Linked DNA regions of Homo sapiens: all the other regions are linked to region 3. Evidence: fine-mapped expression QTL. A gene starts in region 3. Each other region holds a variant in brackets. All regions are shown on one strand. Distances are between the middles of the regions. Region 1 overlaps LINC02373 (long intergenic non-protein coding RNA 2373). Region 2 holds the start of SNORA113 (small nucleolar RNA, H/ACA box 113). Region 3 holds the start of CCT2 (chaperonin containing TCP1 subunit 2).

The links.
Region 1: its variant is fine-mapped to the expression of CCT2 in whole blood (TOPMed, PIP 0.93).
Region 2: its variant is fine-mapped to the expression of CCT2 in whole blood (INTERVAL, PIP above 0.99).

What each region holds. Positions count from the first base shown.
Region 1 is chr12:69,456,772-69,466,224 of GRCh38, reverse strand. LINC02373 (long intergenic non-protein coding RNA 2373) reads right to left here. Exons shown (of 3, transcript NR_185917.1): 2 at 6,625-6,708; 3 at 3,432-5,620. Among named protein-coding and RNA genes, the nearest start is that of FRS2, 8.9 kb to the left of the region's middle. The variant G/A (reference allele first, on the strand shown) is at 3,292.
Region 2 is chr12:69,506,437-69,517,509 of GRCh38, reverse strand. The region is part of intron 1 of FRS2 (fibroblast growth factor receptor substrate 2); the gene reads right to left. SNORA113 (small nucleolar RNA, H/ACA box 113) reads right to left here and starts at 2,070; the gene lies at 1,917-2,070. The variant C/AC (reference allele first, on the strand shown) is at 4,359.
Region 3 is chr12:69,580,332-69,591,404 of GRCh38, reverse strand. CCT2 (chaperonin containing TCP1 subunit 2) reads right to left here and starts at 5,946. Exons shown (of 16, transcript NM_006431.3): 1 at 5,881-5,946; 2 at 5,061-5,135; 3 at 4,587-4,652; 4 at 3,789-3,900; 5 at 3,399-3,475; 6 at 3,143-3,255; 7 at 1,718-1,920. The coding sequence starts at 5,883. It overlaps MIR3913-1 (microRNA 3913-1), which reads left to right and starts at 6,582; the gene lies at 6,582-6,683. MIR3913-2 (microRNA 3913-2) reads right to left here and starts at 6,682; the gene lies at 6,583-6,682. RefSeq lists an enhancer at 5,576-5,915.

The DNA of each region.
Region 1 (9,453 bases), 120 kb after region 3:
TACACTGTACTTTTTTTTTTTTTTTTTTGAGACAGAGTTTCATTCTGTCACCCAGCCTGGAGTGCAGTGGCACGATCTCAGCTCACCGCAACCTCCGCCTCTCAAGTTCAAGTGATTCTCCTGCCTCAGTCTCCCGAGTAGCTGGGATTACAGGTGCCCACTACCATGCCCGGTTAATTTTTGTATTTTTAGTAGAGACCGGGTTTCACCATGTTGGGCCAGGCTGGTCTAGAACTTCTGACTTCAGGTGATATGCCCGCCTCAGCCTCCCAAAGTGCTGGGATTACAGGTGTAAGCCACCATGCCTGGCCACGTTGTACCATTTCTAAACAAGCAAGGCAAGTGCAGACATCAAATTATAAATATCATTACCACCAACGTTTTAATGGAGTTGTAGCTAATGTTATTTGTCAACAGCCTTGGAAAGACAAAAAATGAATAATAGCAATTACTTAAATAGATTTGATGACAAACGACCCTATAGGGTATATATATATTTTTTTAATTTATTTTTTCCTGGATGGAGACACAAGCAAAGCTAGTTCAGGTAGCTAGCAAATGATGAGGTCAGGATTAGAATCCAAGCAGTCTGTCCCCAGAGACACACTCATAACCACTAAACTAATATTTATTGATCCTTTTCTATGTGCCATGGCCATGACTGCCTCCCAACTGAAAGAGACAACCAGATTTATAGAAGAATGTATAAATCTCTTCCAGGCCTTTTACAGGTCACTATAATAAACCCACATAGATCCTTTTCCCTCTCCCACCCCTCATATTGACATGTTTATAATCATTTTTGAAATGGACAAACTGCCACATGTCTAAAACTTCTTTTAATTCCCATATAGTTCTTGCATGAAGTTTGTTTCTGTTGAAAGTTATCATAACGAATCCTATGCACGTGGTTTCACAAACAACGGAAGAAATTTGAAGCCATATAATACTGACAGTGAAAACCAGTATCTCTAGTCAAATCCTGCTTGCGTGGAGAAATGGGAGATGTCAAGGTTGAATTTGAGCAAAAATGTCACATTGACACAAATGCAGAGAAAGTTCAAAAATAGAGAACTTAAAAGGGAATGCTCATCAACCTTTGGTATATTTTACATTTAATTTTTAACTAAATATCATGAAAAAGTACTGGAACTGGCACTTTTCTTTAAAAGGCTTAAATTAATTAAATTTCTGTTGTCCACATTGAATTACGTAGTATCAGGAATTTAAGAGGTTGCCTTCCACTCTTACTCCTTTTTTATCAAAACACTGCCCATCTTACCTTGCCTCAGCTTCTCTTTCTGCAAAATATGCATGATAAATGCATCTTTATATCTTAGAGATGTTGTGAGACATAGCTAATAAATGATTACACAGCATAGCTCTTTGAAGTATAAAGCACTGCATAATTACTAAATACTATAATAATCATCCTCATAATAATAGTAATTTTCAACCAGCACATCAACCAGACCCAGATGCCTTTAGTCACCTTCCAGTTAGACAAAAGTGTATATACCAACTATTAAATCAAATAAAAATCTTAAACCACAGACTGGCTCTACTCCCTTCCTCTTTCCTATGCAGAATCTGAAGTCAGACTGCCAGTGACACATCTCAGTTTCATCACTTGCTGGCTGTGCGACCCAGCTCATACAAGACAGCTAATCTCCAACCTCTATCTCTTCACTATAAAAATTACAATAATAATAATACCCACTTCACAGGATTTTTGTGAGAGTTCAACACATTAATACATGTAGAACTCTGAACTAGTGGCTGGCAGACTATAAGGGCTCAGTGAACATTAGCAGTGGTGATGACTTGCAGCAATATCTAAAAAAAAAAAATAATAGGCAGCAGTCTAGCCATGTTATTGGATAGTAAGTCAATCCATTCAACTTGGAGAATAATTGGTACTGCCCTCTAGGTTACCATGTTAATATTCATCAAATATAAGCTCTTTAATATTGAACTTTGATATCAAAAGGAAAGGTGAGACATTTCATTCTCATTTTCCCAGTCTGTTTAGTCTTTCTTTTTTTTTCTGGAGAGAGGTTCTTGCTCTGCCACCCAGGCTGATGCGCAGTGGTGCAGTCACTGCAGCCTTGATCATCTGAGCTCAAGCGATCCTCCCACCTCAGCCTCCTGAGTAGCTGGCACTACAGGCGTGCACCACCATGCCCAGCTAATTTTTATATTTTTTGTAGAGACACAGTTTTGCCATGTTGCCCAGGCTGGTCCTAGGCTCAAGTGATCTGCCCTGCTTAACCTCCCAAAGTGTTGGGACTACAGGCATGGGCCACTGTGCCCAGCTATTTTTATTCCTTATAATCATTGTGCATGTAATAAATGGCTACATTTTTATTATAGATTATTAGGAAAAAATTGGGTAAAATTTAAAAGTACCTCTTCATCACTAATACTCCCCATGCCCCAGCCCATTCTTCTCTGCAGATGTAACCACTATAAATGATTCGGTGTGTTGCTTTCCAGGCATTTATCAGTGCATTTATATTCATATAAAGAAAACCCAATGGAAACATGAAAGTATGTGCTTAAAGCACCCAAAAGATGAAATTTCACAATGATGCCTGGGCTGATCTCGAACTGCTGGGCTCAAGCAATCCTCCTGCCTCAGCCTCCCTAGTAGCTGGAATTACAGGCATGTGCCACTGTGCCTGGCCCCACCAAAAAAAAAAAATTAAAGAATTTTGTGTTTTTCAATCATTATTAAGTAATTTACAAAATAGAAGGAGGAAAATGTGGTTAAAATTTCAATGAGATATGAAAAAAAATTACCAAAGTGAAATTCTTAGAGAAACTTTTGATAATAAAGATCTTATACACGTGTCAAAAAAAAAAGAAATTTGTGTTTTTACAAATGCATAGATATAAAAAAAAATCAGAGCTTGTTAGGACTTCCTTATACTAATTTAATTTTAACATGGTTTAAATTCTTAAATTAAACAGTAAAATAATATTTACTATGGACCATAAGCTCTTTAGTGCTTACGATTTTTCTTTTTTCTTTTTTTCTTTTTTTTTTTTTTTTTGAGACGAAGTCTCGCTCTTGTCCCCCAGGCTGGAGTGCAATGGTGCAATCTTGGTTCACTGCAACCTCCGCCTCCCAGGTTCAAGCGATTCTCCTGCCTCAGCCTCCCAAGTAGCTGGGATTACAGGTGCCTGCCACCATGCCCAGCTAACTTTTTTTTTTTTTGTATTTTTAGTAGAGACGGCGTTTCACCATGTTGGCCAGGCTTGTCTCAAACTCCTGACCTCAGGTGATCC[G/A]CCTGCCTTGGCCTCCCAAAGTGCTGGGATTACAGGCATGAGCCACCGCGCCTGGCCACGATCTGTCTTAAGATCTTAATCCAAGCTTGCTTTATATGTATGTATGCACCAATATTTTTAAATACATAAATGTAATCATATTGTTTTGCAAATGACTTTATTTGAGTGAGTGATTTTACACATCATAATATTTCTTAGTGGCAATCTAAATAAGGAACTTAAACCGTATCTGCCATTTTGCTCCCCTAAAAACTATTCTTGTCTAAGGGTCCTGTTAGAACAACTTGAGTTTCAAAAGCTTCCATTTTTGCTAAAGCAAATTTCATTTTCCATCACATTTCCAAGCCCCTGTAATACAATCCTTTTTTAATCTCTACAGAGTGTAAGAGGGAGAGAAATCCTACTGACCAGGAGCCTTCTAAATGGTGACTATGGAGAGATGCCAAGGAAATTGAATGGTGCCAAATGCAAAATCCTCAAGTTGCTCTCTAAACCAAAGAAATTCACTGGGAGCCGGATTTCACTGAGGCAGGAAGTATTTCACCTACAAAGATAGAGCACATGTGGAGATTATATTTGGGACCAGGGAATAAAGAAGAAAAGGAAAGCTACATTGTATTTCAGTTGTATTTCAGGAGACAGTAAAAAGAGAACGTTCCCTGAAGCAAAAATAACCAATGACCTTTGGTGCAGGAAAAATATTTAAGCAATAGTTTATAATTAAGTTTATTTAAATTTTTCCCTTATAGGAAATTAACTGCTGAAAATCTGTTACTCCTTCAGCAAGTTCAATGCACATAGAACGCATAGAGAAAGAGAGATCCAGAATTATTTCAAATTTCAAAAATTATATTTATTTGAAATAACCCTGGATCTAAACTACTACAAATGTTTATTGCATACTCAATATGCATAGGAGGTCAGGGGAATACCAAGAACTCCAAGTTACAGAACAAGTCTTCTAAGTGCTTAAAAGTGCCAGTTAGGGAGATAAGTTATGGGCTCATAGAAAAAGAACCGTAATAATGCTAAGGATCCTGTGGTAAATGCTAAATGAATAACAGAGTCATTCATTTTTGGAGACCTCGTCCCTCACTCATGGTCTTCAGGTAAGAGATAGAACTTAAATCATGTCTTAAAGGATTTTGGAAATTATAGGAAAATAAGGGACATGAAAAGGATCCTAGCATTAAAAAAAAAGTACAGATGCAGCAAAGTACCAAGCACATCTAGCAGACCTTGAGCAGATCCTTTTAACTGCAACAAAGGGTTTGTGCCAACTAGGAGAAAACTTTGAGTAAGTAGGTTGGGCCTCTGCTCTGAAGGGCCTTCACTACTAAATTAAGATATTTGGACATTATCTTTTTAGGCAGTAAAGAATCAAAGCTGGTTTCCCGTGAAGCAACATGATTAAAGTATGCTTTCTAAAAATCTTTCTTTTTTTATGAAGAAAATTTGCAAAACACAGAAAACCACCAAAAATAGAATAAAAATTGGCGTGCACCTATAATCCCAGCTACTCAGAGACTGAAGCAGGAGAATCTCTTGAAACTGGGACATAGAGGTTGCAGTGAGCCGAGATCGCACCACTGCGCTCCAGCCTGGGTGACAGAGTGAGATTTTGTCTCAATAAATACATACATACATACATACATACATACATACATACATAATAGTAAAATAAAAAATGAAAATAAAAATTACTTGGAAATCCATCATCCATAAATATGTTAAACTTTGATGGCTAAATGTACAGCATTTTATTTCTGGTCATATATTTATGTGTGTGCACGTGTGTGTGTGTGTGTGTGTGTAGACTGGGATTATGTTTTTTTAATTCAACATTATGTTGTGGGTTTTTCAACATGATTTTTAATAAACTGCATTGTATTTCATTATATAAATGCAATATGTGTCCAATTTTTCCATTTTTCATGCAGGCATAAATAACTAAGATTAATCCAAGGTTAGCATAAGCAGTATTTACAAAGGATTGGAGTAAGGATAAACTGAGAGCAGGAAGACCAGTTAAGAAGCTACTGGTAGAGAACTGCTTGAATAAAGGGCATGTTCACACACTGGAATAGTTTATAACTATTATATTACATTATAATTATTATTTCAAAGAATGATACTGCTCCCAGTGTAGTATTACGCAGTGATCTCCAAGGTAGATTTTCTGGGTTTCTCCTCTTCTCCCCAGTCTCTTAAATTTGTAGTGCTCCAGAACTCCATCCTTTCTCTTCTCCTTCATCTACATTTCCTCCCTTGGTAATCTCATCCAGTCCCAAGGATTTAAATACTGTCTATATGTTAACCACTTGATGGCCTGTGGAAAGAAAAAGTATTCTATATACAGAGATGGATACACATTTCCTGAGAAAGCATTCAAAACTGTAAGTTGGAAATGCCTGCTCCACCAATGCCATCCAATAGGACAAATTACAAATACAAAACACTAGTGTACTGCCCTCAGAGGGGTTCTTGTAAGTGAGGAGGCTTGAAGCTGAGTATATGCTACAGCTCAAGTCAAGGCCTAGAGGCAGGAGCAGAATGATGTGATGAAGGAATCAGGAAGGGTGCACCGCCACTGCAAAGTCCGGCGATGGGATGGGTAGGGAAAAAAAATCACCTTGGGCAATTTGCTCTTTAACTTCTACTCATTCAGATGTTTGTAGACTAATAACCTGGAAGCATCGTTTGATTCAGGTTTCTAATAAATGGCATGTAAGCCATTGTGACAAGGAGTGGAGGGAGAAAGACTCTGTTGACCAGTGAATAAAATAATGATCCTGAGATAGAAAGCAAATATACATGATTCTTCATTTTCAATACCTTCTCCATGTCAAAGTTTTTTTCATTGTTTCTTTTATGAGCTCTGCTTTTCATCACGTAACCCCTTCAACTAAAATTTTCAAAGAATTCTTTCTTTCCATCTTGAAAAGGCCTACCTACTTTTATACAATTGCACTTTGCCTTCTTTTTTGTGTAATTGGGTACAAACATGTAAAAATATTTATACTCCTTTCTAATCTATAGAAAACCATTTTGGGGGTCTTGAAAACAGACTCTTTACAGATGGAGAGAATGAGAGAAATGTCCTCAGTGTGCTGGCTAAAAACTGCAATGTCTGCCCAGCACTGTGCCTCCTCTCATAACAGGGGATGCTCTGCTGAATGAGCCCTTGTATGTCAAGATTCAAAAAGTTCTTGTTTGCTCCAGTTGAACAAAGCTCTCACAGACAGTGGGATCTGCAGGGTAGCCACCAAGTGTGTTAAACCAATGCTCCCTCCACCACACTGCTGAATAGTTTATCGTAATGGCAGTTCTCACCTTCATGTATAGAGGCCGGTGTTCATGTTGCCGTCCTGCACAGAGTTCCCACTGACTTCAAAGGAAATGACATAGAACAGAACCCTGTGGTGTAAGGAGAAACAAGCAGCATCTGATCAGAATCAGGCCACTTTTTTTTTCATTCCCTCTGTATAAATGGCTAAATTTATATACGGAATATCTAAAGGCCACCTTTCACTTCAGCAGTTTATGAATTGTCAGGTATACATACACTTATTGGGAAGTTCAACACTGGACTGCTTTTTATGTAGGAGGGAAAGGGAGGGGAGTGTGTGTTAGAAAAATCCACCTCAATCCCACGTATTGCTTGGTCTGTAAGACCCCCAAGAGACCAAAGTGATCTGGGGCTAGTTTAGGGGTTCTGTTTTACTTATAGCTGGCCTTGAGGCACATGCTAAAGAAAAAGAAGGAGGAGGAGAAAAAGAGGAGAGGAAAAAAAGAGAAAAAAGAAAGCGTAAGTGTATGTTTATTAAGTCTCTGGATAGGGGAAGTCATTCTAAGCTTAAAAACAAGAAGGGGATAAATCAAAATGAAATAGGTTAAAATGGCAAATGAAAAGCTGCGTCAATTGTGACAGGCAAAAGATTAATATTCCTAATATATTCAAATTATCCACAAATTGGCTAAAAATGTAATAAAATAAATTCTAGATGGATAAAATGTTAAAATTTAAATTTTCTAAAAATGTTTAGCTAAAGTAATGCATAGGTGAATATCTGACCTCTGGATAGGAAAGGGAGTTCGAAGCTTAAACATAGTATAAGAAATCACAGTGGCCAGGCACGAAGGCTCATGCCTGTAATCCCAGCACTTTGGGAGGCTGAGGCGGGCAGATCACAAGGTCAAGAGATCGAAACCATCCTGGCCAACATGGTGAAACCCCGTCTCTACTAAAAAGACAAAAATTAGCTGGGCGTAGTGGCAGGCGCCTGTAATCCCAGCTACTTGGGAGGCTGAGGCAAGAGAATCGCTTGAACCTGGGAGGCAGAGGTTGCAGTCAGCTGAGATCATGCCATTGCATTCCAGCCTGGGCAAAAAGAGAGAAACTCTGTCTCAAAAGAAAAAAAAATAAATAAATCATGAAGAAAAAGATCAACACATTTGACTATATGAAAAATCAAAATTCTGTAAATTAAAAAAAATAAAAATTAAAACAGTCAACTTGGAAAATATTTGCAACAGTTATCCTGAATTTATAAAGAACTCAAGGCTGGGCTTGGTGGCTCATGCCTTTAATCCTAGCACTTTGGGAGGCTGAGGCAGGCAGATTGCTTGAGCTCAGGAGTTTGAGACTAGCCTGGACAACATGATGAAAACCCATCTGTAAACAAAAATTTAAAAATTAACCGGATGTGGTGGTCCATGCCTGTAGGCTCAGCTACTTGTGAGGCTAAGATGGGAGGATCACTTGAGCTCAGGAGGTGGAGGCTGCAATGAGCCGAGATCATACCACTGCACTCCAGCCCAGGTGATAGAGCAAGACCCTTTCTCAAAAAAAAATAATAATAATAAAAATAAAGAACTCAAGAAAGTTGATTTTTTTAAAAAAGTAATAAAAGATTTCTATAGAATAAAAGGCAAAGGATTCAGAAAGTTCATGGAAAAATTAAAATGGCTAATAAACACTTGAAAATGTTCAATATTACTAATAACCAATGAGTAATGAAATACAAACTTTTTTCACTTCAAATAGGCAAATATGAAAAAATGAAACTATACATTGTAGTCTTTTCAAATACAAGCAATGAACAGAAAATATAGTGAAAAAGAAATGCTTATTCAAAATAGCAACAAAACAAATAAAATGCCAAATAATATACTTAATGTGCAGAACCTAAATAAGGAAAGTGAGCTTTCCTCCCTTTCTCGCCGGAAGGCAGCCTCATGGGAGCCAGGCCTGCGTAGGAAGAGTGTTCTAGCAAGGTAGCAGCCTAAAGGTGTCAGGAAATTGGCAACATGCAGGGAGATTAAGCAAATTAGCAGAATATTAAGGATAATGACAGTCAAGTTGCTCACTGTCAGAGAAAAGAGGTGTAAACATGGAAGGGGAAAGCTAGACTAAGCCCTGTGGCAATGGATTAGAATTGAACCTATCAGTGTGAACTTATGGTTTTCAATATATAAAGACAGATATAAAGAATAAACATAGGGCTGGGCACGGTGGCTCACACCTGTAATCTCAGCACTTTGGGAGGCCCAGGCAGGTGGAACACTTGAGGTCAGGAGTTCAAGACCAGCCTGGCCAACATGGTGAAACCCCATCTCTACTAAAAATACAAAAATTAGCAGGACATGGTGGCACACTCCTGTAATCCCAGCTACTCAGGAGGCTGAGGCAGACGAATCACTTGAACCGGGAGGCAGAGGTTGCAGTGAGCTGAGATCAAGCCATTGCACTCCAGCCTGGGCAAAGAAGCAAGACTCCGTCCCAAAAATAAATAAATTAATTAATTAACATAGATGTAAATGCATGTATGCATATATGTATATAAATGCATATGTGAAAATACCTATATATGTACATATGTATATGCATACATGTATTTCCCTAGCTCAGTTAGTGAGGCAGCCTCAGAGAAGCAATGCCATAGTAACGATGAGCACTCCCAGTGCCTTGATCTTGGTTTCTGAATATCGTTCTATCTTCTCCACATTTACTCTGTTCTTTAGGGATCTCATACACTTTCTAATGCTTCATGCTGATGACATCTACATGTATATGTCAAGACTAGACCTTTCATCTAAGCCCCAGATTACTATATTCAAACTGCTTATCTGACATCTCTATTTTGTTCTGTCACACACATT
Region 2 (11,073 bases), 74 kb after region 3:
GATTCACCATTGGCAAATGCCCCTAAAGATTAAAAAAAAAAAAATGTACAGGTTGAGTATCCCTTATCCAAAATGCTTGAAACCAGAAGTGTTTCGAATTTCACAGTTTTTTCAGATTTTGGAATATCTGCATATACATAATGAGATATCTTGGGAATGAGACCAAGTCTAAACATGAAATTCATTTACATTTCATATATACCTTATACATATAAGCTGAAAGTAATTTTATACAACATTTTAAATAATTTTGCCCATGAAACAAAGTTTGTATATACATTGAACCATCAGAAAGCAAAGGTGTTGCTATCTCAGCCACCCACGTGGACAATCTGTGGTGGTTTAGCACTATCATCATTCTGCACACAGAAAAGGTAACTACAGCTGTGAGGGCTGGGAGGGTCTTTTTTCCCTTGTGGAGGATGAATAAGCTGTGTGTTGTGTGCCTGTGTTTTCACTGTAGCCCATGACACGAGGTCAGATGTGAAATTTTCACTGTAGCATCATGTTGGTGCTCAAAAAGTTTTGAATTTTGGAGCATTTCAGATTTCAAATTTTTGGATTAGGGATCCTAAGTCTATATATGCCAACACTGTTTTCAAAAATGGACTACTGCTCATTTCAAAACTGATTCACTAAAAAGTTTGTATAAGAAGCATAAATCTTAAAAGTGGCAGAATAGAAGAATATATAACATCAACTGCTTTTATGCAAAAATCCATTTTATACAGCTAGTACTGGATTAAAACAAAAAAATTATAAAGAAATAACATTTCTCATATTAAAAGTTATATGCTAGGAAAGATCAGATGGAGATAAGGACAAAAGGTATAGTATACTCAATGTTGACAATTTAATATTTAAACAGAACACAAATCACTTTTAATTTCATGGATATTTACCTTACATCAAGCACATCTCTAGCACCCAGCCCACATTCAGACGGTCTACAAGAGCATGTGTGTGGAAGGGCACTTAATCTACTCACTTTTGGCCGGGCGCAGTGGCTCACGCCTGTAATCCCAGCACTTTGGGAGGCTGAGGTGGGTGGATCACCTGAGGTCCGGAGTTCAAGACCAGCCTGACCAACATGGAGAAACCCCGTCTCTACTAAAAATACAAAATTAGCCAGGCGTGGTGGCACACGCCTGTAATCCCAGCTACTCCGGAGGCTGAGGCGGGAGAATGGCTTGAACCAGGGAGGCGGAGGTTGCTGTGAGCCGAGATCGCGCCATTGCACGCCAGCCTGGGCAACAAGAGCGAAACTCCGTCTCAAAAAAAAAAAAAATAGTAATAATAATAATAATAATAATCTACTCACTTTTACAAAAATATATCTGCCCATTTAGTCTTAAAGGCACAAGTGAATAAAATAACATTATTATGAAATACTGTTTGGGAAGTATAGAAAAATCTGTAGGACAGACTTGTACTAAAGTAATAATTAACGAGAGGTGGTTTACGAATAAATACTCCAGCTTAATTGACATCACAGAAACTATGGGAGTTTGTCTTTACCATTTCCTCTTGCCCAAACCAAGCTGGATATTTCCCGGGGTTAAATAACAGTTCTTGTTTATTTCTCCTAGATATGACACCTTTTGCAGTGTGTGGGGGTGGGGGTGGGGCGGTCAAACTAAAAATACATAAACCAATATAAAATGTAAACTGGTAGAGAGGCTTAAGATCTACTGTTTACTCTAGGGAAAGCACAGATTCAAACTTAAAAAAAAAAAAAAAGACCTCAATGACTTTCCTGATACAGAAAGGGAAAATTTTAATTGTTTTTCAACCCACCATTAGAGGGAACAAAAGATTAAAAATGTTGCTTTCAGGGTAATGTGTGTGCATACCCTCTCTTCCACATGTATTTGTCTTTGTTTCTCCCTCTCGAGGAGTGGGTGTGAGTATGTGTATGTGTGTGAGAGAGAGAGACAGCAAGAGAGCGCGAGGGATGTTTTTCCCTTCCTCCCTCAGTCTCGGTCACTCTATATCCCCTCTCCTTTTATGTCAGCCTGTCTCTCACACTCAGTAACTCATTTCTAAGCACTGATATTCAGAAACAAAGCATTTTATCAGGTTGTAGTCTGAGGCAAAGTGAATTATAAAAATAGTCACAAAGTGAGAAAAAGAATAAGAAATTATTTAATCATCAGCTGAAAATAGAAAAAATTAAAGCCAGAAACTTTCAGCTTTCCTTAAACTACCTAAACACATAAACATGCCATACACAAAATCTTAATAAACATAGTAGGTTCAATCTAACAGATTCATTTACAGAATTTTGAGCTAAATGCATCAGGACAGAAAAGACATTAAAAGTCAGTTTAATTAAGTAGTTAGCACTGGCTTTGGAGTCATAGCTCTGAATTTATATCCCAACACTGCTATCACTAACTGTACAATCTTGGGCAGGTTACCTGCTCTTGGTCTATCTTTTAATCTCTAAAATGAAACTAACAAGTTTGTTGTGAGGATGACACAGATAATTCTTGTATAACATTTAGCATGGTGGCACATATTGAGGGCTTCACATTTTATCTGAAACATCAGGTGCAGTGAACATCTATTATTCTTTTTGTCTGCTTGAACTTCTCCTGCCATATGATTTCAGAAGGTAAAACACTGGTTCTACAGCTTGGAGTTCTTGAGAACTCCACCCATCTTTTTTTTTTTTTGAGACACAGTCCCACTCTGTTGCCCAGGCTGGAGTGCAGTGGTGTGATTTAGCTCACTGCAACCTCCGCCTCCCAGGTTCAAATGATTCTCCTGCCTCAGCCTCCTAGGTAGCTGGGATTACAGGCACACACCAACACGCTTGGCTAAGTGTTGTATTTTTAGTAGAGATGGGGTTTCGCCATGTTGGCCAGGCTGGTCTAGAACTCCTGACCTCAGGTGATCCACCCACCTCAGCCTCCTAAAGTGCTGGGATTAAAGGCATGAGCCACTGCATCTGGCCATCCTCCCGTCTTATAATTGCAGAAGGTTAAACACTTTCCCACATGTCCCATACATCTAGGATACATGTTTTGCCAAACACACATGTGCATCCCAGAGTAGCGAATTAGTGAGCAGAAGCAGAGAGCAGAAGGAGCTCATTCTCACACTAATGGTGGAGCAGTTTCAGCAAGGTCAAGTCTGGGGCAGAGGTGGCAGCATTTAGAGTCATCCAGAGCCAGCAGTGTTGCTGGGACAGGTTGTGGCATCCATCCGTCTGTCTCTAGATGGTACTGGCATCCTCATGGGAATTATGCAATGTGATTTGGAGCATTGTTTCTGGTTGCTTAGCCCTGAATCTGGTTCTCCAACCCTCACAACAATTTGATAAGCCACTGAGCTCTACCCAATTTCCTTTTAAAACATATTTGATTTGGTTTTTACTAACCAAAAATTCTGATTGACATCATGCAGGGGCGAAATCTATTCTCACCTGCCTCACCCACACAGAAAAAAAAAAGCAATTTTCCATCTCTCCAAAGAAACTCAAAAAGTATTGTTTGCTTTTAACCAATGGATTTATCCTGGGAAGACTTCGAATTTTATTTTTATAAATTATAGATAATTATTTTCTTAATTTAGAAAGTGAGAAATATCTAGGCAGATTTAGATTTATTTCAAAGGAACACTGTCAAGGAGAAGTGATATCACAGGAAAACAACTCTATCCAAGGAGTAGCTTTCATTGAGGTAACAAATGATTCCACCATGCCTAAAACCAACCTATGTATTCCCAACAATTTTCTTCCCAGCAGGAGCTTTACACTTGAGGAGCCCCACCCCCAAGGGTCATTTTTAGGTCAAAAAATTTTTAATTATTATCAGAAAACCATATATATTCCTCTTTTGTTTAAAAAAATAACTCAGTAAAATATCTAAATAGCAAAACTATTCAATTCTCTGTTAAAATAGTGCATAGTAAGTCAGTGCCTCATTGTCACAGGCTAACGCACACTCCTCCTCCTCTGCCAGATTTCTCTGCAGGTCTATTTTACAGTTCAGTAATGCTTTTTCCAGTGTTCAGAATGTTACAGCTCAAATCTGTTAATTTTATTACTCATCAGTAAAAATGTTGATACAAGGTTTGTGGGGAGGCTGAAGCTTGGGGACTAGTTTCCCTATTCTCAGGAGCCAGTTACCATATGGGGTTGAAACTATGTTTTAATGAATAAAATATATATATATGAACAAAATCAAGCATAGTTTTTAAAAAGGTGATTGTTGACTGCCAACCTAAAAAAAAAGAGAGTTTAAAAAAGCAAATCTTTTCAGATTAAAATTTAGGAAAAAAGAAAGAAGAATTTGGAAAGGTATATTGTTGTTAATGTACATCCAATGTATTAAAAGGTCAAAAAAAAAAAA[C/AC]AAACTCCAAACTTTGCCAGAGATTTGGGGGCGGGAGGAGAAGTCACAGAATTTCAAGGTTCATGCTCATGCATTAGAGCTACATTACACCTTACAAGTGGCTGAGGCCTTGAGAGTTGAGCAACTTACCCAAGGAACTTATCTTCTGATTCCTAGCTGAATGATGTCATTAAGACATCTTCCTTTTGCCCTTCAAAATAAAGTTAACTGAAATGAAGTTAACTGAATACCATATGGCATGATTCCTGAATTTAAAATAACAAGAAAATACTAAATCCAAAGCAAGTGATTTCAACTGTTTGTATTCTTTTTAACATAACGTTCTGATTTATGATAATTCATAAATACTCTAGACCCATCAGTACAGAAAAAGCCATCAAGGAAAGTGAAAACTTTTTATAGTGTCTATAACTTCATTTCTAGGTAATGCCCGGGATGTGTTATAAAGTAAAATCATTTTTGCATATGTGCCAAGGGCTATTTCTTAACCATCAATTATAATATACAAGTTGTTATTTACTGCATGCCCTCAGAACATATACCTAAACACCATGAATTTAAGTGTATGCAACTCAACAAAAAAAATTCTTTTCTGGTCACAATCCACTCACCTTATAAAGATACCACAATCCCTTAGAAAAAAGTTCTTCTGCATTTGATTCTTATACTAAATGTAGTGTGAGCTTTCTACTCAAGGGAATAAAAGGAAAAAGTTCATACAAGATCCAGGTCTTCTTTCTTAAATGAGGCTTGCACAAATAAGTCTTACAAACTAGCTATATTTGTGTTTTATGAGAAGCCTAGAAGAAGCAGAGCTAAAAAGGTCCTAAGGCTAGCTCTGAATTACTACCCTGTTATAAAGAGTAATTTATGCTATGAAATAACAGTAACAGTCAAAATATTCCCCTCCCCCGCCAAAAAGAGATGAGCTAACAGACTCCTATTAAAATAAGGTGCAAGATCAAAAAGTACATGAAACCCAAAAGAGAACAGGGAGGGAGGGTGTGTATAAAGAGATAAAAGGTTTACAGCAAGGAAGGCAAACCTAAGACACATGTACTGCTATTTCTCGTCCTTCAAAATTGGCAGACACAGGTAACAGGTGACAGCTCTGTGGAGTCTGGCAAAGGCTTCAGAAACCTCTGTTACAAAGCAATGGGAGCTGTCAGATTAAATATAACACTGTCATCCCTGGTTGAGACTGACTGAACAAAAGCTGCAGAGAAAACTCATTAAACAGATAAAGAGTATAGAGAAAAACAGGAACAATAAGAGCAGCCAATATTTACTGAGGTATTTTTTGTTTTTAGGTTACATACATTGTTCATTTAATCCTCAAAACAAACTTCATAACTACTAACACTGTGCCCATTTTATAGATGGAAGAAAAGAAACAAGATTTACAGAATTTTCAATAACCAACTAGCCAGTCGTATATATAGTAAGAAATGGGGGCCCTAACACGGATATGAGCAGTTTACCATTCCTTTGTAATGGATCATAGAACTCAACGACTGACCTAATCCTCTATTCATCTCCATGTAAATCCACCAGTTCAGAGTTTTTTTAAAACAAAATTTTAATTAAGTAATATCACGTTTCTAATTGAAACTGTGGGAAATATAATGAATATACTAAAACTGATATTTTTATTGCTTTTATAATTAACAGTTTGATGAACACTTTCTACACACACTTCTGTACATTTTTATTCCATTTATAAAACATTATCAATGGAATTCTGGGTCAAAGAGTGTGCACACATTCAGCCGGAACATTTGATTTTATTACTACTGAAATGATGAAGAGATGATGGTCCCTTTAGGAAAACAACTGTGTCTTATTCTCCCTTGTGTCCAAAACATCTAGTACATAAGCAAGTATTCATTGACTGCTTAATGAATGATGGAGGTTTCCCTTCCCTTAGCACACAGTCTCTGAGGGGAGAATTAAATCCTGCAGGTTCTCAAATGAGAAGACAAATGATGCCAAATATCAAATTTACTGATGGGCTGCATAAAACCCTCCTCAGGGAGAAAAAAAGCACAAGTACTGGCACTGCCATTCAAAGTATCTCTATATGTTTAAAAGAGTTGGATACCTTATAGTATATTTAAAGAATACAGTATTTTAGTAGGTATGTAACACTGAAAGATACTACTTCTCCCAGTTTATTATCTAAATGGCACACTGTCCACGAAGATAATTTCAGAACATGTTCAAAGAGCTTCAAAGGGCTAAATCTTTTAAATACTAACTAGATTTTTCATTTTACATTGATTTTTATTCACAGGTACTAATGTTATTATAGCAGGTATCCCATAAAGATGAAAAACAGATTCACTATAAAGACAATGTGCAGGGTATTGAGCTAGCACTTTAGATGTATTAATTTAATGTTCACCACATTCCATGCTAGCTATTATTGTCTCTATTTCACAGGCAAAGAAACAGAAGATAAAGAAACTTGCTTGTTTCTTTGAACCAAGACATTCTGGCCACACGCCTAATCACTACACATTATTGACTCCAAGTAACAAGCAAAAGCAAATACAGTTTCTGGCACAGCTTTCAGTGGACATTAGTGATAAAGGGTACAATGACAATACGCTTGCCAGAAAATAGGGTGTTCAATCAATTTGGATGGATTATTTATTTAGTAAATAATTATTTATTATCTATCATGGGCCAAGAACTGTATCAGAATATGTATTTTTCAAACCTTGAAAACAGTTTAGGGAAGAAAGAGGCAGATCTTGTAATACAGATATCTAGCGTACAGAGACAGATGTAACGGAGACAGAATAAAATAGAATTATTCACAAGTGTCAAGACACAGAAGGAGTAATTAACTCTACCGAGGGCACTCAGAGAAGTTGCACAGAAAGGAAACAGCTCAATTGTAACTTGAATAACAGACTTTTAATGTGTCTGGCTATAAGTTTCTCTCTCAAAATCATTCTCCACAGATGGGTCAGGTTATCACTATGAAAAGTGCTGCAGCAGAAGCACAGAATATGGCTTAGGACAGCTGGCACCACATGAGGTATGCTAGGGAGAGAAAGAGGGGGCTAGAGATTGCCACAGATCTGCAGAATCAAACCCCTACAAACACAATAGAAGCCAGTGACAAGTCCATTTATCACACTTAATTTTATAGCTAACATGGCTGTTAAAATTGCCTTTGTTTGGCATACCTGTAAATTCCCAATAAATTCTTAATAAAATAAACCTAAATTTAAAAACAATAACAAAGGAATGAGGGCTGGGAGGGGAAAGGTGGATGTAAAGCATGACTGACCCTTCCTGAGACCTCGCTTTAAAAAGTTATAGGAGTTTTTAGAAGTATAAAGCCCATAAGGATGAGGAGAATTGGGAAAGACACAACAGCAAATGAGAGTCATCAACATCATTTTGGAAGCTAGAAAAGGAAAAGAATAACCTATCAAGACCAAGAAAGTTGAAACCTAAACCTGACAGGGAGAAGCCATCAGGAAGCAAGCTGATAAAGACAGAAAGTAGAATAATGGTTGCCAAGAGCTAGGGAGGGGGAAATGGGGAGTTACTGCTTAATGGGTGCTGAGTCTCAGCTGGAGATGATGAAAAAGTTCTGGAGATGAATAGTGGTGATTATTGCACACTAATGTACTTAATACCATGGAACTGTACACTTTAAAATGGTTGTAGCCGTAAATTTTGTTATTATATTTTACCACAATTTAACAAAAAAAGCAGCAGCAAGTTGACTCATGCTGGAAAGATTTAGGTATTGTAGGGACAGTGAAGACAAAACACAGGATGGGGCTGGAAACCATATGACTGGCTGAAAATTCTTATAAGTGGCCTCCCCCTGAAAACCAATCTTCTCCCTATCCCTGATAAGAGTCTGGAGATGCATCTCTGGAGAGGGTGAATGAGAGACCCCAATCTTAGGAACACAAGTCACAACTGAAGCAAGACAAAATGTCTTACTGAAAAAGAGGAAAATTATGTGAAATTCTGCTCAGGATGCAGTAGACTATCTCCCAGGAGAAAATGGAGATGACAGATTACTTAATGTGTCCAACCATATTAAGAGCTGTTTCAGATTTGTTAAATAATTGTAAATGAATTAATAACAAGAAAAAAATTTTAAACTGGGATAATTATCTGGAAAAACAAAATATAATTAGTGAATTTTGTGACTCAGTTGTGAAAAATATTTGCATAGTCTTAATAAACACTAAACTACCCCCAAAATCTGATACCCTATAAAGATGAGAAAAAGGGAAGTATGTATAAAAGCCTGTGGGCAGTAGAGAGATTAAGATAACTAATCTTCATCCTTCTTAGATGGAAGTCAGTAGCTACTATCTAAAATGAAAACCCAACAAAAAGCAGAATAACTGACTTAGAAAAATGAAGACAAATATCAGAACAAATAACTAAAAGAACGGAAACTGACTGCCTTGTAAAGATTGGTAATTGGAGGTGAAGAGAGATGGGGAACTGTTTTCATAAGCCTTGTAATACAATTTGACTTTTTAAACTACACATGTACAAATATCATTTTAATTTTAAAATACAAATTTAATTTAGAAAGGTAACCAGAAGATTTTGTTTAAAAGATCTAAAATTGTCTACAGAGTATACATTTTTTCCAACTATCATTATTAATTTCTGTTAATTCTTAGGACTTCCAGTAATAGTGAGGCCAATCATAATAGATGCCTTTCTTGTAGAACAATTCATTAACTGGTATGTCATTCACTAGAGAAATACTTTGGGAATGTAGCAATTCTAAAGCCTAACTGTTAAAAACCACTCCTTAAATGCCGTATTTTCTCTCTTTCTCCCTAAGAATAGATATTTGGATATATTTTATAAAAGCTTACATTATTTGCAACTCTTGGGTCAAATCCAAATTTTGACATTTTCAATGACTAGCATTTGTAAACACCAGCAATAGTAGAGTTGATTTAAGTCTGAATGTCAAATGATACAAATGGACAGACTGAAAGGCTACCTCACAGAAAAATACACACAGGAATAAATATGCAAAGAAAACAGTAAACAATCTTATTATCTTATCTGCAAGAACTGCAGCACTGCAGCAACTTTTTTTTTTTTTTTTTTTTTTTTTTTTTTGAGACGGGGTTTCGCTCTTGTTGCCCAGGCTGGAGTGCAATGGCGCGATCTCGGCTCACCACAACCTCTGCCTCCTGGGTTGAAGCAATTCTCCTGCCTCAGCCTCCTGAGTAGCTGGGATTACAGGCATGTGCCACCACACCCTGTTAATTTTGTATTTTTAGTAGAGACAGGGTTTCTCCATGTTGGTCAGGCTGGTCTTGAACTTTCGACCTAAGGTGATCCGCCCGCCTGGGCCTCCCAAAGTGCTGGGATTACAGGCGTGAGCCACCGGGCCCGGCTGCAACTTTTTAAGTACCATACTTAGGGGCACAAATTCATCAACTAAATATAATCGAATTAACATACTTCTACACAGTCAAAACCAAGAACCTCATCCAGAAAAGGAAAATGCTTAAAAACACAAGATTAAAACCATGAGATTAAAACTACATCACAGTCTATTAAATTTTTTAAAAATTAATGAAGTTCTTTTCATATGAAGAGAAAAGCTATGAGGCCTTGGTTTCCTTTCCCAGCAGTACTAATGGGCTCTGTTGATCTACAACACAGAGTTGCTGGATTTCATGTGTCAACTATAAAACAAATTTGCAAACAATTAAACAAGTATTATAAAAGCTTAAAAAGATTAAAATAATATTTGTCTTATTATTTACATTGCACACCCATATAACAGGACAGAAACATAGTCAGAGATATAACAACCAAAAAAAATGCCAAGTATTTATCACTGAGTGCCTATTATGTGTCGGAACATGACAGAAAGAAAGGCATACTCCTCCTGCACTCAAGGAGTTTGAAATTGACTAGTGTAGGAGAGGGGGTAAGAAGTATGTTGTAGTAGGGCTGTGTCTTAGTGTGTTTTTTGTTGCTTATTACAGAATACCTAAAACTGAGCAATTTATAAGATATGAAATTTATTTCTTACAGTTATGGAAGCAGGGAAGCCCAAGGTCGAGGGACCGCATTTGGTGAGAGCCTTCTTGGCTGGTGGGGTCTCTCTGCAGAGTCCTGAGGCAGCAGAGGGCATCACGTGGTGGGGCTGAGCATGCTAGCTCAGGTCTCTCTTCCTCTTCTTATAAAGCTACCAGTCCTATTCCCGTGATAACCCATTAATCCATTAATCCATGAATGTATTAATCTATTCATGAGGGCAGAGCCCTCATGACCTAACCACTTCTTAAAGGCTTTTCCTCTCAATATTGCCACATTGGGGATTAAGTTTCAACATGAGTTTTGGAGGGGACAAACATTCAAACCATAGAAGGCTGCCAATATTAAGACATTAAAACAATTCATGAACAATACAAAACAGAGAAATGACTAAGAAGTAAACTACGAAATTGTAAATTTAGAGAAGGGGAAGATAATAGAGGGCTTGAAAGAAGAAGTAGACACCGAACTGGATCTAAAAGAATCTTTCAAATGCTATAAAAGCATTTGAAAAGATAAGGGATATTAGGGAGAATGAGTACTCTCTCTCTCTGGATTTTGCTATATATTTAAATAATACGTTATCAGTCAGATGAGAAAAGAAAAGAAAAAAAACAGAATACATATCAGTACTTCCCAAATTTATCTGCCTAAC
Region 3 (11,073 bases):
CTGGCTATATAACCTTCGACAAATTATCCAACCAGAAATGCTAATTTGTAAAACAGGAATGTAACCAGTAGCAGAGGTGCTAGTTACCAGCCTAGTCCTGCTGCTTTGGAACCATCATACAAACCCAGTACCACCTACCTTTCTAGGCCTTTTTTTGGTTACATTAGAAACTTTTCCATTATGAAGCCACCATTATCTTGGGTTTTCTACTCTATTCAAGTGAACCTAATCCTCACTCACCAGGTCATGATGACTAAATGACTAAAGTTCCTATTACAATTCCTAGTACAGAGCAGACATTCAAGAATGGTGCTGCTTGTGCTACTAATATTCTTGTTTTAATGCTCCTTCCCTACCACCAGCCCCTATCAGAAATGCTACGCAGCGGCCAGGCATGGTGGCTCACGCCTGTAATCCCAGTACTTTGGGAGGCTGAGGCAGGTGGATCCCCTTAGGTCAGGAGTTCGAGACCAGCCTGGTCAACATGGCGATACCCCGTCTCTACTAAAAATACAAAAAAGTTAGCCAGGCATGGTGGCACACGCCTGTAATCCCACCTACTCAGGAGGCTGAGGCAGGAGAATCGCCTTAACTCAGGAGGCAGTGGTTGCAGTGAGGCGAGATCATACTGCTGCACTCCAGCCTGGGTGACACAGCCAGACTCCGTCTCAAAAAAAAAAAAAAAGAAATGCTACACAGCTCTTGTATATAAACTTAATCAAGAGTATTTTCAGAATTATGACTCTCTCTTAAAATAAATCAAGACCTATGACACAGAACAAAACCAGGACTCCAAACCACTGGTAAAAACAGAAGTTGTAAAGCACCATCTAATTCTTTTTTTTTCCTTCTCTATATAAGAATGCCTATACTTTTTGACAGGCCATTTTGTGAAGTAAATATAATGTGAAGATGATCTGGAAAACTTCACTCTAAACAAAAATGTACTACTAAGAAAGCAGTACTTATTATGTCTCATTTATCACTCTTTAAGAACTAGATCCTCTTGCCCTATAAACATACATAATTATTTGTTAAAGAAATTTTTTTTAATTCTTTTCTAAAAAAAACTAGTCATCCCCCAGTATACGAAGGGGACTGGTTCCAAGACGCCCACATACACCAAAATCCCCACATACTTAAGTTCCAGGCTGACTGGAACCAGCAGATTTGAAAAGCTGGCCCACTATATACATGGGTTTCAAATCCTGCAAATACTGCATTTTCCATCCACGTTCGGTTGCACATGTGCAAACCACGGACACAAAGGGCTGACTATATTTATTGAAAAAACCTGCATTGTGAACCTACATAATTCAAACCCATGTTGTTCAATGGTCAACTGTACATCCTCAACAACCAGCTAACACAATGATTTGACTGACCCAGACCCTTCCTGGAGAATACATATAATCCTGGTAAAAGTACCATTTGAGAATAGATGATTTCTAGTAAAAGAAAACATTTCCTCTTTATCAGAGACTGCAAATAACTTCATGGTAGTTAAGTAAACTCTAGAGATCATCAACAATGCTGGAATAGCGCGGGAAGAGGAGTACACTGTCAATAAAATGACAAAAATGGTTGCACATATGATATGTCCTTAAATTCAAGTTCACTGGCTTTGTAAAGGGTCACTGGTCTCAAAACAGAATTCACTCAGTATTCAGCCCTCAGCATCTAATCAAAGCTTCTTGTATCTGACATTCATACATACCTTCATCTAAATAGGAATCTGCCAAACTTCCTCCTAGCTTCTTGATAATATGAATTGCCTCCAGGTTGCCAGAGCCTTTCAGTCTGAGAACTGCTTCTACAGCTAACTTTGTAAAGTGGTCTTTGTGATGAGTAAGAAGTTTTGAGGATAATGTTGTGCCCGCAATATTCATTAAATCTTGACGGAATTTAACTTCATCGGAACTAAATAAAACCAACCAAATATACATATTAACCCTACTTTACTTTTCAAAATTTATCTAGATATTCATGTCAATAGATAATTTTACCCTAACTGATCAAGTCTGTAAGCTATATGAAAAGAATTAAACCTCAGCAGTAATCAAGAAACACAAATTAAAGATGTTATTTTCCCCACCAAACTGGCAAAATGCCAAAAAAAAAAGAGGGGTGGGGGCCACACAAGCATGCAAAAGTCTAATGTTGGCAAGAATGTGAGAAATGGCCGGGCACAGTGGCTCACGCCTGTAATCCTAGCACTTTGGGAGACTGAGGAGGATGGATCACTTGAGGTCAGTTCAAGACCAGCCTGAGCAACATGGTGAAACCCCATCTACACTAAAAATACAAAATTAGCTGGCTATGATGGCACATGCCTGTAGTCCCTGCTACTTGGGAGGCTGAGGCAAGAGAATCGCTTGAACCCGGGAGGCAGAGGTTGCAGTCAGCCGAAGTCGTGCCACTGCACTCCATTCTGGGCAACTCTAAGAGCGAGACTCCGTCTCAAAATAAATAAATAAATAAAAGGACGTGAAAAACAAGTATTATTATACAGTTGTGAATGGGCAAATAAATAGAAGTGCCTTAAAACAGTGGTCCCGGACCTTTTTGGCACCAGGGACTGGTTTCATGGGAAGACAATTTTTCCACCTGCTGCTCACCTGCTGTGCAGCCCAGGTTTGGGGGTGCCTTAAAACACACACACTTACCTTTGGACCCAACAATTACACTTCTAGAAACCTTTGGGCTATGTCGCAACGTCACAAAGTTATTTTATAATGCTAAAAATCATCAAATACACAAATCTCCCCCTACAGATAGGTTAATACAGTCATTCTAGCCAAATATTCAAATGTGTAACTCTATTAAAATACTGCACAGAAAATTGACATCCAAAAATGTGCTTAATATTTAACTAGGTTAAAAAGAGGCTAACAAATTCTCTATACAGTATTATACTATTTGCTTTATTTGTATATTTTGATGATATATACAAAAAGACTAAAAACCCAAACTTAACTTTAGTGGCTATCTCTGGAGGCTGATGTAGGTTTGACTGTTGGAGTGGGGTGAGGCAGCAAGATGATCTTTGTGTATGCTTTTCAGTGTCCTATAGATTTCTTGCATTAAGCATGTTATGAAAGAACACTAAATGTTTAGAACAGTAGTACTTTGCTATACAAACCCATGATCAACTGCAGAACTCAACAGCGCCTCTCTTGCAGCCTTCGTGGCTTCTCTCCAACCCGCTATGATGGTCTGTGGATGAATCTTTTTTGCAATTAAAGATTCTGCTTCCTATTAATAAAGTTATAAAACAAAAGTTATAAATAGAAAATTATTAAGCACTCCTCAATAGTAAAGACAGAGGAAGTAAGGACTAGATTACCTCTGATACTCAAAAACACAGTAGGAAAAAAGAGTTGCTTAGTTGCTCTTACCCTTAATAATTCTGCTGCTAAAACGGTAACAGAGGTAGTGCCATCACCAACTTCATCATCTTGAACCCTTGACATATCTAGAAAAAGAAATTAGTTATTAACTCAAAATTGCTTCTTTGCTTACTAAATTCTCCAAAAATATTCACTACCAATCTAAACTTACCAGGGTTCCTCATTCAACAAATTATTTGGAACTCTGAGGTCTGAAATGCAACAGTTTTACCACCAACATACGGGCACTCCTGAAGCTTGTATTTTAACAACGATAATTAACAACTAGTGGACATCAATTGACAGTACGATTGGTCAACACAGCCTATTTATAAAGTTATTTCAAAAATGTTAACAAACAGTATTATTAGGTTGGTGAAAAAGTATATTCAGACTTACCAACTAAAACTTTAGCTGCTGGATTGTCAACACCAATGTTTTTTAGAATAGTGGCACCATCATTGGTTACCATAAGAGAGGCATCTCGTCCACTGCTTAGAAGAATTTTGTCCTAAAGGGAACATAATTGGTTCAAGTTAAGACATAAGCACATCTTGAAGAATGCATGGATCAATCAGTATTCTCACACAGTGCTAGTGTATAAACACTCTGGATAGCTATTTTGTGGTATCCATTCATCAAATGTTTTCAATACATACACCACGTAACCAAACCATGTATCTACCCCTAGAAACACTAGAAGCACAGGTAGACACTAGTTTTTGTTTCAACACCGTAACTGCAAAAACAATGGAAAGAAACTATCAATACAGCCATAATTAAATTATAAAATAATTAAGGTACAGGATAATATTTGACAGTTAAAGGGGCAGTGTTATCTACTTACACTGAAAGGAATTTAAAAGAGCAAGCTACAAAAAAGTATTGATAAATAGTATCTGTTTTATAAAACAGTATGTTACATGAGTATAAAATACATAATGAAGTACACATACTTCTACATAAACAGAATATTAGAAGATGTACGTGCAAATGATAACAGTACTTGTCATTGGGGAGGGGCATGGGATTGGGGATGGTGATTCTGGGGACTCTGATTTTTACTAAGGAGAACATACTTGTCTTTTATAATTAAACGTTTTAAAGATTAAAAAGCATTTTAATACGCTTGTTATTATATTTCCACCAAGCGCTCTAAAACAATATTAAAATATAAAACTTTTCTATTTTTCTTACCATGCCTTTGGGTCCCAAGGTGCTCTTTACCAAGTCTCCAATGGCGATGGCACCAATAAAAGAAGTCTGGAGTAAAAACCAAGGAGATTATCAGAATCAACTTTACAGTCTTCAAGTACAGTTTTATCTTTATTTACTTTTTTTTTTTTTTGAGGCAGAGTGTCGCTCTGTCGCCCAGGCTGGAGTGCAATGGCGCGATCTCAGCTCACTGCAACCTCCGCCTCCTGGGTTCAAGCGATCCTCCTGCCTCAGCCTCCCGAGTAGCTGGGATTACAGGTGCCCATCACCACGCCCGGCTAATTTTTGTATTTCTAGTAGAAACGGGGTTTTACCATGTTGGCCAGGCTGGTCTCGAACTCCTGACCTCAGTTCATCCGCCTACCTCGGCCTCCCAAAGTACTGGGATTACAGGAGTAAGCCACCGCGCCTGGCCTCCAGTTTTATCTTTAAAACAATGCTTAGAACAAGGCTTACCAGACGAGCTGTCTCTGCTCTCTCTTCATCAGCTCCTGCCTTAAAGATGTTAACAGGTGCAAGGGAAAGGGACGCCTGAAAAGGAAAACCAAGAGGCATTCCGTTTAAGTACCAATACTCTAACACATACACTGAGGTGCCTTCCACTAGTCTTACAAGTGGACATCTAAGAGAAAACTCATTTACAACAATGTTTTCAATCAAATGAAGCTTCCATCATCGGAGAAAGCATTTAAGTGGGAGAGAGGGACTTGTAGGAGAGCGACATGGCTTTTCGGATTTACAAGGCCCCCGGGAGTATAAATTATACACCAGCGAGATTGACAGTTACGTACAGCGAGACTAAAGACGATCTTGAACTAAGAATGAGGCAGGGAGGGGTTGCAGGCCATCAAGGTGACGCCTGCCGGGCGGGCGAGGGAACGCGGCCTCCATCTTCCACCCTCGGAAGGCTGCGGCCCCTCCACCCTCTGATGGCTCAGACCCCGTCGCTCCAGGCTCCGCCCCTAGAAGGAGGGCGGAGCGGGTCCCACACTAGAAATTTCTTCGCTCCGGGTGAGGCGCGGACCTGGGCTGCCGGGACTATGCAAAGACCTAGGCACAAGGAGACGCTGGCTTTGCGGTCCACCCCTCCCCCTCGTGGTGAGCTCCACCGGCTGGCCTGGCGCAGGCCGCACGCCCCGCGCATGGCTCGCACCATGTGCGGAGGGCCGGGGAGACAGAAACGGAGCCTACGACCCTAGCAGGACAGAGGAAGCAGTGGGGTGGCAAGAGCACGGCGGAGCAGGGGTAGGGCAAGAGGCAGGGGAGTCAGGCTCACCATGGTTCCGAGGAGTTCCGCACACAAGTGAATCCCCTCACAGCTCGTGCTCGGGACCAGCGGACTGAAGGAAGCCGGAAGTGACGCCACACGCCCTACTTCGGGGGGCGGGGCCCCGGCCTGTCGTTACCGCCAGCAGGCGTCCCATTTTGATTGGAGCCCCACGGGCCGGAAACGCAGCCTTTCACACTGGAGGGGGCGTGGCCGCCGCTCCAGAACAAAGAGGCGGCTGCCGCGCGGGTTGCCATAGAAATGGAGTTCTTGCTCACACTTTTTATTTTCTTAAATTTAATCTTTAAACACTTCTATTAAAGTCACACATGTACACAGTTTAAAGTGTTATATACCAATAAGGAAAAACATAATTTATCTGCCTCACCACTTCCTGTCTCCAGGAAAACTGCTTTCAACTTTTTCAGTTTTTTGGAGGGGCTATTTACTATCATATTCCCAGATAATATTATTGCTATGTTAATTTTAAACATTATTTACTGAGTATTACAGAAGAAGACTTCCTTTTCTCTTACTGAATTTTCAGACGTTATTTCTAACTGGACGTTGACTGCCCAGGATAAGGTCTTGTGAACTGAGAGAGACATTTATAGTATTTTATCTTTGCCCTATTTACTCATTTTCAGGAATTTTTGCATTTCGGTCTTTTTTTTTTTTTTCCTCCAATAGTAGAGACGACTTATTAGTCTTTGTTTATAATAAACTGAAATATTTGGGACTGATCTTGATGTCTGCCAAAACCTTGGCAGACATCAAGATCAGTCCCAAATATTTCAGTTTATTATAGACAGTTTTCTACTTTCTCTAAGTTGACGGATGTCTAAAAATTTGTTCTCTAAAAAATTTTTCTGTCATCTACTGATACCCTCTTTTCTCCCTTTGACTAACTGATCGCTTAAGCTCCTCGGCAGGGCGCGGTGGCTCACCCCTGTAATCCCAGCACTTTGGGAGGCCGAGGTGGGCGGATCACCTGAGGTCAGGAGTTGGAGACCAGCCTGGCCAACATGGTGAAACCCTGTCTCTACTGAAAATACAAAAATTAGCCGGGCGTGGTGTGCATGCCCGTAATCCCAGCTACTCAGGAGGCTGAGGCAGGATAATTGCTTGAACCCGGGAGGCAGAGGTTTCAGTGAGCCGAGATCACGCCGCTGCACTCCAGCCTGGGCAACAGAGCGAGACTCTGTCTCAAAACAAAAACAAAACAAAACAAGCTCCTGGATTTTTCTTTTTCTGTTTTGTTTTTTTTAGAGATGGGGTCTTCTATGTTGCCCAGGCTGGCCTGGAACTCCTGGGCTCAAGCAATCTTCCTGCCTTGGTCTCCTGAGTAGCTGGGGTCTCCTGGATTTTTGACATTGCTAACATTAACAGGAATTTTCAATTTTTTAGTTGTTTCTACCCTTCAGATTTCCTCTAAGTGGGTTGATTTCCACCAGGGGTTGGCAAGCTGTGAGGAGTCAAACCCAGCCTGCCAGTTGTTTTTTGTATGGCCTGAGAGCTAAGAATAGTTTTTACATTTTTAAGTGGTTGAAAGAAATCAAAAATTTCCTGACACATGAAAATCCTGTGAAATTAATATTTCAGTGTCCATAAAGCTTCATTGGAATCCATGGGCATACCCATACATATTTACTCTGTCACAATACGATAGCAGAGTTATGTGGCAGAGTTGAGTAGTCATGACAGGTTGAATGGGCCCACAAAACCTAAAACATGTATTATCTAATTCTTTACAGAAAAAGTTTGCTGACCCTGGTTTACAGTATTCCTCAGGTCCAACATGAAAAGGGGAGTTCAGGCTGGACAAATTGTTATTTTAAATCTCCCAAGAGTTTTCTCTTCTTTGTAGGAAAATTTGGTCTTCTTTCAGGAAATGTACTTTCCTAGGCAGATCCCAAATCGCATTCTGGAATGAGAAGATTCACAATAAAAAACTAAGATGCCTGCACAATATTGAAAAAGGTTGTTTTTATTGTGGGCAAAATTACATACCTGGAGATATTTATTATGTCCTCTGGTAGGCAAGCCTGAGACTGTGTGTGATGGGGAAACCAATGACTGCTCCCTGCTGGGCTTTGAATGTAGCCAGAGGCATTTGGATGGGGAGAAGGAGGCAGGCCCTGCCACCTTGTGGAACTGAGGCTAGAGGCAGCCAGGAAGAGACTCTATGATGGGACCCTTGGAAATGTGTCCTTTCTCCATTGCATCTTTTGACCCTTCCTTCTTTCCTACTTCCCCCTCCTTTGATGACACCTCTACACCTAGAGGCTAAACACTCAGCTTCTAGACCCAGACTATATGAGTTTGAATTTCAACCATTTTACGTACTAGCTTTGTAGTCTTGGGTGGGTTTCACAGGCTCTTTAAATCAGTTCATTGAAGGCCATTCAGAGCGTGATCAATGTGCTGGTTTACCAAAAACTGTCTCTTTTAGCTGTTTATACTTTTTTGTTGTTGTTGTTGTTGTTGAAACAGAGTTTCACTCTGTCGCTCGGGCTGGAGTGCAGTGGTATGATCTCAACTCACTGCAACCTCCGCCTCCCGGGTTCAAGCAATTCTCCTGCCTCAGCCTCCCAAATAGCTGGGACTACAGGCATGCACCACCACAGCTGGCTAATTTTTGTATTTTTAGTAGAGACAGGGTTTAACCATGTTGGCCAGGGTGGTCTCGAACTTCTGACCTCAAGCAATCTGCCCACCTCAGTCTCCCAAAGTGCTGGGATTACAGGCATGAGCCACCACACCTATATATATATTTTTTAATTGAGACAGGGTCTTACTCTGTCACCCAGGCAGGAGTGCAGTGGTGTGATCTCCACTCACTGCAACCTCTGCCTCCTGACTTCAAGCGATCCTCCGACCTGTCTCCCGAGTAGCTGGAAATACAGGCATGCGCCACCACACCAGCTAATTTTTTGTATTTTTGGTGGAGACGGGATTTTGCCATGTTTCTCAGGCTGGTCTTGAACTCCTGAATTCATGCGATCTGCCCACCTTGGCCTCCCAAAGTGCTGGAATTACAGGCAGAAGCCACTGTGCCCATCTATTTATACATTTTATCGTAATTTGTATTAGATAGGTTACAGGGCCTATGGAGATAGTGAGACCTTGGGAATCCATGTTTCTGTGATTAAACACGTTGTGTGACTTTCTCCTGGCTCATCTTCTGTCCTCTACTCTCAAGTCCCTTGGTCTTGGCTTCTCTTAGTTAACCCTTCCTCCTCCCTCAAAGTCTTTGTGACCCTCTCCTCTCTATGACCCTGTGTCCTCCTCTCTCTTCCCCTTGGTATAATTTGGCTTTCAGTGAATTGGCTTTTTGTTAACTGGTCAGCTTCCAGTTATATAATCTCTCTGTGCCTCAATTTCCCTTTGTGTAAAATGGAGATAATTATCACAGATTAAATAGCTTAGAACAGTGCCTGTTTAGCTTAGCTATTGTTATCATTATATCCCAAGTCTTCTAATAGGCTTTATAAATATAGTAGCCGAGGTTGGATATGCTTGGCATGTTATGGAAGTAGGAAAGCACTGTAGCATATCATTATTTGATGGCTAGAGGTGATTTGGGAGCAAGGGTAGATTCATTAACTGGAGTGAAATAACTGGCGAAGTGGCAAACAACCACCAGAACAGAGTTATGGGACTTGTCAACATTCCTCAGGAACAGTTAGAATACCTGGGGAAGGAAACCAAATAAAGGACCAGGAGTCCACAGTCACATTAAGTTGGGTCCACCCAGACACCTACTGTTTGGGTAGTAGGGAGAAGGTTAGAAGACTTGATATTTCTCCTGTTGCAGACCGTGATAGTTTGTACACAGGAATCAGTCTGTGGAGCACACTTAGAGGAGCACTTTAAAAAAAAAAAAAACAGGGTCTCATTATGTTGCCCAGGCTGGACCACAGTGGCAGGATCACAGTTCATTGCAGCCTCAACCTCCCAGGCTTAATCTATCCTCCTGCCTCAGTCTCTTGAGTAGCTGGGACTACAAGCACACACCACCACGCCAGTTGATTTTTGTATTTTTTCATAGAAACAGGTTTTCACCATGTTGCCCAGGCTGGTCTCAAACTTCTGGGCTGAAGTGATCCACCCTCCACAGCCTCCCAAAGTGCTGGGATTACGGGCATGAGCCACCATGCCCAGCCCCCAAATATATCTTAAATCTCAATGAACTGACACCATCAACCATCTCAGTCACCCAAACCAGATAACTGGGGGTCATCCTTGACCCCTCCATTTCTGTCATTCCCCTTATCAATCAGAGGTGTTAATTCTTCCTCCTTTAGGCCCTCTATTACATTGGTGGCCCTGAATAAACTACACTTTTGATGTTCATGCTTTTATATGAGCCACTGTAATTCAACAAAATACAACAGAATTGACATTGTGCCAGTTCTGGGCTTAGGCCTCAAGAAAGCCTAGCAGCATCTACTTTTGTGCTCTTGGGAACCCTAAGCTGCCATGTAAGAAGACCACATGAAGAAAGACCCAAGACTTCATGGAAGAAAACTAAGGAACACAGCTGAGAGCTTTAAGTTCCAGACATAACCTAGTGGAACTGGTCCAGCCAGCCCTCAGCTGCTTGAATCATACTAGCATAGGCACAAAGCATATGAGGAAGCCAGGCCTCCAGACATCATGTGAGATGAGCCATCTCTGCTGTGCCCTGCCCATCTCGATCTATAGCAACTTGAGACATTAAATGATTGCTGCTTTAAGCCACTAACTTTTAGGGTGGTTTGTTGCACAGCAGTAAACAATCTAAACAGTCCTTTAACAATGCCTTTGAATACGGATTTATCAGATCTGGCTCCATTTCTGAAAAAGCCTCTCAACCAGTCTCCCTGCTTTATTAAAATACCGTAGGGCCAGCTACTTGGGAGGCAGAGCCAGGAGAATGGCATGAACCTGGGAGGGGGAGCTTGCAGTGAGCCGAGATGGCGCCACTGCACTCCATCCAGCCTGGGCAACAGGGAGAGACTCCGTCTCAAAAAAAAAAAAAAAAAAAAAAAAAAAAATACTGCGCCCTTCACGTATCCATGTTGTCAGAGAAATCTTTCTAAACTATTATTTTTCTGGTGTTTAAAATCCTTCAAGTTCTCTCACCTAATTTAAACAAAAGCTCCTTAGGATTCTGTGATCTGTTTCTCATTTCTCCTTTCTTCTGTATCCCCCAACCCT